Linked DNA regions of Homo sapiens. The protein of the gene in region 2 purifies or fractionates together with the protein of the main gene of each other region. This does not show direct contact. Each region holds a gene or a part of one and is shown on either strand. Other genes may lie near its edges.

What was found. Proteins that work in one complex are often made in the same cells at the same time.
Region 1: the proteins of SMARCAL1 (region 2) and SULT1A1 fractionate together in Homo sapiens (co-fractionation; one large-scale study listed by BioGRID). This does not show direct contact.

Annotation. Positions count from the first base shown.
Region 1 is NC_000016.10:28,607,245-28,611,544, reverse strand, and holds the start of SULT1A1 (sulfotransferase 1A1), read left to right. Parts: upstream 1-1,500; 5' UTR 1,501-1,614; exon of another isoform or gene 1,615-2,685; 5' UTR 2,686-2,689; coding exon 2,690-2,837; intron 2,838-2,941; coding exon 2,942-3,067; intron 3,068-3,156; coding exon 3,157-3,254; intron 3,255-4,300. UniProt on the Homo sapiens protein: Sulfotransferase that utilizes 3'-phospho-5'-adenylyl sulfate (PAPS) as sulfonate donor to catalyze the sulfate conjugation of a wide variety of acceptor molecules bearing a hydroxyl or an amine group.
Region 2 is NC_000002.12:216,429,484-216,432,983, forward strand, and holds part of SMARCAL1 (SWI/SNF-related matrix-associated actin-dependent regulator of chromatin subfamily A-like protein 1), read left to right. Parts: intron 1-3,234; coding exon 3,235-3,385; intron 3,386-3,500. UniProt on the Homo sapiens protein: ATP-dependent annealing helicase that binds selectively to fork DNA relative to ssDNA or dsDNA and catalyzes the rewinding of the stably unwound DNA. Rewinds single-stranded DNA bubbles that are stably bound by replication protein A (RPA).

The DNA.
Region 1 (4,300 bases), on a different chromosome or scaffold from region 2:
TATATTCATGAAGAGTCCAGGAAAAGGTAAAGATTTCTCAAGACCGTGGTGCCACAATTTACACCCAAATACAGGTGTTCCTGGAGCCGTCTTGGCACTGGTGGGTGTACGGTTTCATATGTTACTGATCATACAATGAGATCCTAGGTGAAACCTACATCAAATACAGCGCCATGTTGTGTCTGGTTGGTCGTAGCCAGCTTGGTCCTCATCCTATTTTTCAGGGACTTATTGGCCCTTAGCGCATGCAGCTATTTCAAGTTTCCTTCTTCTCCTCATGTGAAACTGCTGCCTGGGATTTTGTATTCACTTGCTACCACTCTATTAATCTCACATTCTCGCCTCTTTTCTGTGTCACCCCGTGTGGGTCCGACAGGTTGTTACTAGAGTGCAATACAAAGTCTTAGTCAAGGGAACCTCCTGAGGGTTGCTGAGGGCAGGGGTGGAGCTAGTAGCCTGAGGACCTGCCAGTCACGGGGATTCCTCATGGGCACAGAGGAGGGAGGAGGGGTCCATGGCCCTAGCATATGAGAAGCCTCTCCTCTGCCTGGAATTCCCATGCCTCAGCTTCCCCCACACTCCCACCTGTCCGCTTGCCTCTGAACTCACGCATTTCTTGGAAGTCTTGGGAGATTCACCTTTACTCAGATGGTTGTTTACCTGTCTCGTGCACAGCTTGACCTTGGACTTTAAAGTGAGGATAAAGAACGAGGAGGATGGGGGGATGCCCCCCTTCCACGGGGCCCTGTGGCTTCCAAACCTCGGCCTCCTCTGGTCTCTTGTCTGTGGAGCCTCCTTCAAACCCAGGGAAATAAAACCACCTGCCACGGGTTGTGGTTCTTCTAGGATCTTCTATCAATGTTCTCTGAGGTCCCCAGGAGCCATGAAGCTGGGGCTGACTCCCAGGGCAATGGGACTGCAGTGTCCTTGTTCTTTCTTGTTCTATGCATCCATGCTCTGCTCCACCCCTGCCCCTTCACTCTGCCCACACACATCCCTCTAGACTGGCCTTGTGGTCAGAGCCTGGAGTGCATGGGCTGCTGGGGGCCTGTGGGCTGCACTGGGCCAGAACCCCTGGCACCTTCAAGACTGGCCTGGAGCCAGCAGGTAGGTGACCTTTCCAGGGCCTGCCTATCCCAGCTTTCTCCTCCAATCCCTCCCCTCTCTTGCCTGGGTCAATTAGAGAGAGCTTGTCTGTTGGCTGCCTGGCAGGGTGGAGTTCAGGGGCAGGTCAGGAGCCCAGTGACAGCTCGGAAAAAAAAAAAAAAAAAAAAAAAAAACAGAAAAAAAAAACCTACAAAAACAAACCCACCATTGGGCCTTTCCCCTTTCATTCTTCTGTTTTCTACACAGCAAACTCAGTCGTGGCTTTGGAGATCACTTTAAGCTTGTCTCCAGCTGGCACACTAAGGAGGGTAATGGAGAAGCTCCCCCACCCCCAACCCCACCCCTTCCTTCCGGAAGCAAATCTAAGTCCAGCCCCGGCTCCAGATCCCTCCCACAGTGGACCTAGGAAACCCTCAGCTCAGAGAACAACCCTGCATTCCCCACACAACACCCACAATCAGCCACTGCGGGCGAGGAGGGCACGAGGCCAGGTTCCCAAGAGCTCAGGTGAGTGACACAGTGGAACGGCCCAGGGCGCCCTCACCCTGCTCAGCTTGTGGCTCTAACATTCCAGAAGCTGAGGCCTCTGGCATCCCTGCCCTTTCCCCATGGATATCCCATTTCAGACAACCCTGGCCTGCGTGAATCCCCCTCCCTTCCCTTGTTTGTTTGTTTTTTTCCCCGGGGAGGCCAGGTCTTGCTGTCACCCAGGCTGGAGTGCTGTGGGATCCTGGCCACTGCAGCCTTGAATTCCTGGGCTCAAGTGATTCTCTTGCCTCAGCCTCTGGAGTAGCTAGGACTACAGGCCCTCATCATCCTGCCTGGTTAATGTTTAAGAATTTTTTTAAAGATTTTTAGAGATGGGGTCTTGCAATGCTGCACCAGGTTGGTCTCCAACTCCTGGCCTCAGCCTCCCTAGGGTCTGGGATTATAGGTGGGAGCCACCCTGCCTAGGCCTGTGCTTTTGCTGAGTCATCAGAGTTTTGTTCATTCCCACAGCAGCTCTGGCCCCTAGTAGCAGCTCAGTTCCTCAATGGGCCGTGTTTGTCCTGGAGCCCAGATGGACTGTGGCCAGGCAAGTGGATCACAGGCCTGGCTGGCCTGGGCGGTTTCCACATGTGAGGGGCTGAGGGGCTCAAGGAGGGGAGCATCTCCACTGGGTGGAGGCTGGGGGTCCCAGCAGGAAGTGGTGAGACAAAGGGCGCTGGCTGGCAGGGAGACAGCACAGGAAGGTCCTAGAGCTTCCTCAGTGCAGCTGGACTCTCCTGGAGACCTTCACACACCCTGACATCTGGGCCTTGCCCGACGAGGGTGCTTTCACTGGTCTGCACCATGGCCCAGGCCCTGGGATTTTGAACAGCTCCGCAGGTGAATGAAAGGTGAGGCCAGGCTGGGGAACCACCGCATTAGAGCCCGACCTGGTTTTCAGCCCCAGCCCCGCCACTGAGTGGCTTTGTGAGTGCGGGCAAGTCACTCAGCCTCCCTAGGCCTCAGTGACTTCCCTGAAAGCAAGAATTCCACTTTCTTGCTGTTGTGATGGTGGTAAGGGAACGGGCCTGGCTCTGGCCCCTGACGCAGGAACATGGAGCTGATCCAGGACACCTCCCGCCCGCCACTGGAGTACGTGAAGGGGGTCCCGCTCATCAAGTACTTTGCAGAGGCACTGGGGCCCCTGCAGAGCTTCCAGGCCCGGCCTGATGACCTGCTCATCAGCACCTACCCCAAGTCCGGTAAGTGAGGAGGGCCACCCACCCTCTCCCAGGTGGCAGTCCCCACCTTGGCCAGCGAGGTCGTGCCCTCAGCCTGCTCACCTCCCATCTCCCTCCCTCTCCAGGCACTACCTGGGTAAGCCAGATTCTGGACATGATCTACCAGGGTGGTGACCTGGAGAAGTGTCACCGAGCTCCCATCTTCATGCGGGTGCCCTTCCTTGAGTTCAAAGCCCCAGGGATTCCCTCAGGTGTGTGAGTGTGTCCTGGGTGCAAGGGGAGTGGAGGAAGACAGGGCTGGGGCTTCAGCTCACCAGACCTTCCCTGACCCACTGCTCAGGGATGGAGACTCTGAAAGACACACCGGCCCCACGACTCCTGAAGACACACCTGCCCCTGGCTCTGCTCCCCCAGACTCTGTTGGATCAGAAGGTCAAGGTGAGGCAGGGCACAGTGTTTCACATCCATAATCCCAGCACTTTGGGAGGCTGAGGCAGGCAGATCACCTGAGGTTGGGAGTTTGAGAGCACCCTGAGCAACATAGAAGAACCTTGTCTCTACTAAAAATACAAAATTAGCCGGGTGTGGTGGCGGGTGCCTGTAATCCCAGCTACTCCGAAGCCTGAGACAGGAGAATCACTTGAACCCGGGAGAAGGAGGTTGTGGTGAGCCAGAGATCCCACCATTGCATTCCAGCCTGAGCAACAAGAGCAAAACTCACAAAAATAAATAAATAAATAAATATATAAATAAAAATAAAACTGTGGCACCTGTGGTGGCTCACTGCTGTAATGCCAGCACTTTGGGAGGCCAAATTGGGTGGATCACTTGAGCTCAGGAGTTACAGACCAGCCCGGGAAACATGGGGAGTCTCCATCTCTATAAAAATGCAAAATATCAGCAGGGCATGGTGGCATAGCGCTGTAGTTCCAGCTACTGGAAAGTCTGAGGTTGGAGGATTGCTTGAGCCTGGAAGGTCAAGGTTGCAGTGAGTTATTATCACTCCAGTGCACTCCAACTTGGGCGACAGAAAAAAAGAAAGACCACGGTCCTTTTTTTTTTTTTTTTTTTTTTGAGACTCTCTGTCTCAAAAATAAATAAATAAAATAAAATAAAATAAAATAAATCCCACAATAAAAAGAAAAAGCAAAGGTCCAGGTGTGGGGCATGTGAATCCAGGGAAGGAGGCCCTGGCTCAGCCCAGCTTTGGTCCTGTTCTTCTGGGAAAGTCGCCTCACTTCCTCCAGCCTTGTCTCATCTTCTGCGGCGGGGACTGTCTGCCTCTTGCTCTGATGACCAAGAACGTAAGACTCTTCAGTGTAGACCTAAGAAAGCTAGAGGGTGGGTCCTCACAGGCCCACAAAATTTGGTGGCGGTGGGATCACGGCTGGTGGAGCATGCCTTGCTCCAGATTGGGGTGTGACGCATTGATGCAGATTATATTACTATAGAATATGATGGTCTCAGGGACCAGGCAGGACTTT
Region 2 (3,500 bases):
GAGTTTCTTGGGAGAAGCAAAATGCCGTATTTGAACTAGCCTTCTCTTAAAAATATGGGAGTTCAAGGAGAAGAAAGAGGAAGTCTTGATAGTCTGTCTAGAAATAAGAAGCTGTTATTAGACAGTGTAGTTGAACATAGAGCCCTGTGCAAGGGAAGGAACCTAAATTAACAATGGCACTGACAAACCACAACAGCCTGCCTGCTCGAAGCCTGATTGTGGTATTTTGGTGAAAGCTTGGCTACCGTCTCTGGCAGGATTTGGGTCTCGGTGTGCCGTTTGGGCACAGTGCACTTTATTATGTTACCTGGCCCCAGCCCTTCCCCCTAATTCTTTTCTTCATTTCCTTCCATCTCTCTTACATAGCACACTCTGCAAAACCTCCTCTGGCATTGCCATTCCAATGCTCCAGCTGGTGAGATGTCCTTTGGGCCTTGTTTTAACCAGGCTCAGGGTGGTTTTTTCCTTTCATCTTTCTTTCTCTGGGCCTCTTTATTAAAGCTGCAGTAGAGGTTGCCCAGCCCCACCCCCTGGGCAGCCCCTGCCTTCAGCATCCAAGTTCTTCGTGGCACTGTTAGCCATCCTTGGGCCCACGTGTTGGGTGCTGGTTTTACCAGTTACCCCATTACCCCTGAGAGAGGCTCTGTGTGTGAGGCGCCCCAGGGCAGATCTGTTTCTCTCTCTGTGGCTCTAAAGTACTTGTAATCTTTCTTCAGAATTTTCTAAATAAACTCAGATTTTAACTTTCATAGTCTGAAGAGGTGGGGGTTTGGCATTGGGGGAGGAGGGCTGTCAATTCTATGTTTTGTTTTGTTTTCTTTAATGCAAGAACTACAATTGAACACACCCATTAATTTATAAAGCAAAATCTCTTAGAAATATCAGCATCTTCTAATATCCAAGTCACCCTCTTCAGCAGGTGAATGAATTGAGGCTTAGAAAGGCAGTCAGTTGCCTAAAGTTATTCAGCAGTCAGAAGTGGAGTTGGGGCTTAAATCTGTGTTTTCTGATTGATTAATTTCTGAGTATGACATTTTTTTCTATTGTATTCAACTGCCCTGTGGAGGATGACATTTACTTATGTTATTGTTCCTCTGTTATCCAGGCTTTTTCTGTCTTTGTTGTCATTTTTTGGCCACTTTGTTCCTTAGTTGGGCTCCCTCTAGGCAGGGGAAAAAGGAGAGAATGTGAAATTCAGGGGGTCCATTCTGCTCTAAGGATGCGGATAGACCAAACTTCTGGAAATTATAGATGGTAAAGCTGAGAAGGCTGAAACAAAAGACGCTCAAAGGGCGTGGGGCTCTCCATGGATTCCGTTGCTTAGGTACTGCCTGTCCTCGCTGGCCACCAATTTTGTAAATCAGAAAGTGAGGTAAAAAATACATCTTTTCACACCTGCCCTCCCCCCATCTGTCTGTGTTGTGGGTTGATCCCAGAAATGGTCCAGAAGATTTCATAGAGGTGGGTGTACAGGGAGGAGGCTGCGCCTGTTCTGGAGAGGTGAGGCAGCCCACTGCTCGGCTCCGTTCCTCCCCAGTGGAGGGTGAGGCCGCCAAAGCTGGGCTTTGGGAAGGGCTGCCCCCTCTCCTAGGCAGGCCCCCGCCCAGGCTGCAGGGAGAACAGAAGGGTGCCACGCCATGATGCCTGTTGTCCCCACACTCTACTGGCTTCGGGCTGCCTGGGGATTTGCTGCCCAGTTTTCCATCTTTGGAAACGGTGTTTCCAGGCAATTCAGAAAGGGCAAGTGCAGCCTAGACTTCTTGTCCGCCCTGCTAGCTGCTGATTAGAAGAGGTGACATTCTCTGTTTTCACTGTGTGAGAAGGAAAGAGAAAGAACTATCCCAGCGGCTTATTATCAGGATTCTGAGCAAATGATCTATTTTTCAGAGATTAGATGAAAGAAGACTAGTATTTGGCACAGAGGACCAGACATCTGGCACTTGGGATCCTTTTAGCTTTTCACTGTTTCATCATGCGACACGAGCAAGTCATTTTTACTGTTTGTGTTTTGATTCTTTTTCTTTTTGTGGAATAGTAGTTATGATAGAAGCACTTCCTTAGCACTTATGATGTTGCCAACCACTGTTTTCAGTATTAGCTTTATTAACCCTCCCACAGCTCCATGAGATAGGTACTGTTATTACTCCCTTCTTACTGCTGAGGGGGCTGAGGCATAGGGAGGTTAAATCATGTGCATGAAGGTGTACAGCTGCTGAGTGATGGAATTGGGACTCCAACCCCAGCCAATCTGGCTCTGAAATAGTGGAATACACCTTTATTCATGAACTATTAGCAAGGGATGCTGCACTTAAGGGCTTTAGGGTCCTGGAGGCTGCCATAGTGAAAAACTCAGTGCTGAGGTTGGTGCTTCCTGTTGGACAAGCACCCTTCCTCCCATCCTTTTCTCGCCTCTGTCCTCATTAGCAGCATCTTCTGTCTTTGCCAGCCCCTTTCTCTGCCTTTATGCATACTGAGTACTCTCTGATCTTCAGAAAGCCTTCTTTTCACCCTACCAGCTCTTCTTTCCTTCCTTCCTTTCTTTTTTTCTTTTTTTTCAGATGGAGTTTCGCTTTTGTTGCCCAGGCTGGAGTGCAATGGTGTGATCTCGGTTCATTGCAACCTCTGCCTCCCGGGTTCAAGCGATTCTCCTGCCTCAGCCTCCCAAGTAGCTGGGACTACGGGCATGTGCCTGTAGAGATGGGGTTTCACCATGTTGGTCAGGCTGGTGTCAAACTCCTGACCTCAGGTGATCCGCCCCACTCAGCCTCTCAAAGTGCTGGGATTACAGGCATGAGCCACCGCGCCCGACCCTTTCCTTCCTTTCAAGGCAGACTCTGGAGTGAGTAAGCATGCCCTCCTCAGTGCTAGTCCTGGACTCCCACCACCCTCCTCCATGTACGTCCCCTGTGCCCTGCCTACAGTGGGCCGAGGCAACTCCTCTCACTGGAAACTTCCTTCTTTGGCCTCCACGACCTAATCATCTTCCAGATCTTCTCCCTTTTGACCACATTCCACATTTTTCCTTTTTGGGCTTTCTCTCTCTCTCTCTCTCTTTTTTATTCTGCTCCCTATTTGGCCTATGTACCTTTCCTTCTGGGGAGCAAGTCTGGTGGTGGGCTGGGCCCGGGCTGGCCAGTGAAGTGGCCTTCACCCAGCAGTGCTGACCCACCGGACATGAGGGCAGATGAACTCATGCCCCGGGAAATGTGCCATCCTCACCTTGTCTGCCTTCAGTTTTGCCATAGCCAAAGGAGGCCGCCTGCTGCTCGCTGACGACATGGGCCTGGGGAAGACCATCCAAGCCATCTGCATCGCAGCCTTTTACCGGAAGGAGTGGCCGCTCCTGGTGGTGGTGCCATCCTCCGTGCGCTTCACCTGGGAGCAGGTTAATGGTCTTCAAATTGCAGTTTTCACAGAGAAGGTTTTCTTCAGTGTTAGAGTCATAAAATAATGGTTTGCAGACAGGGCCTAGGGATCTTTAAGGATCCTGTCTCAAGTAA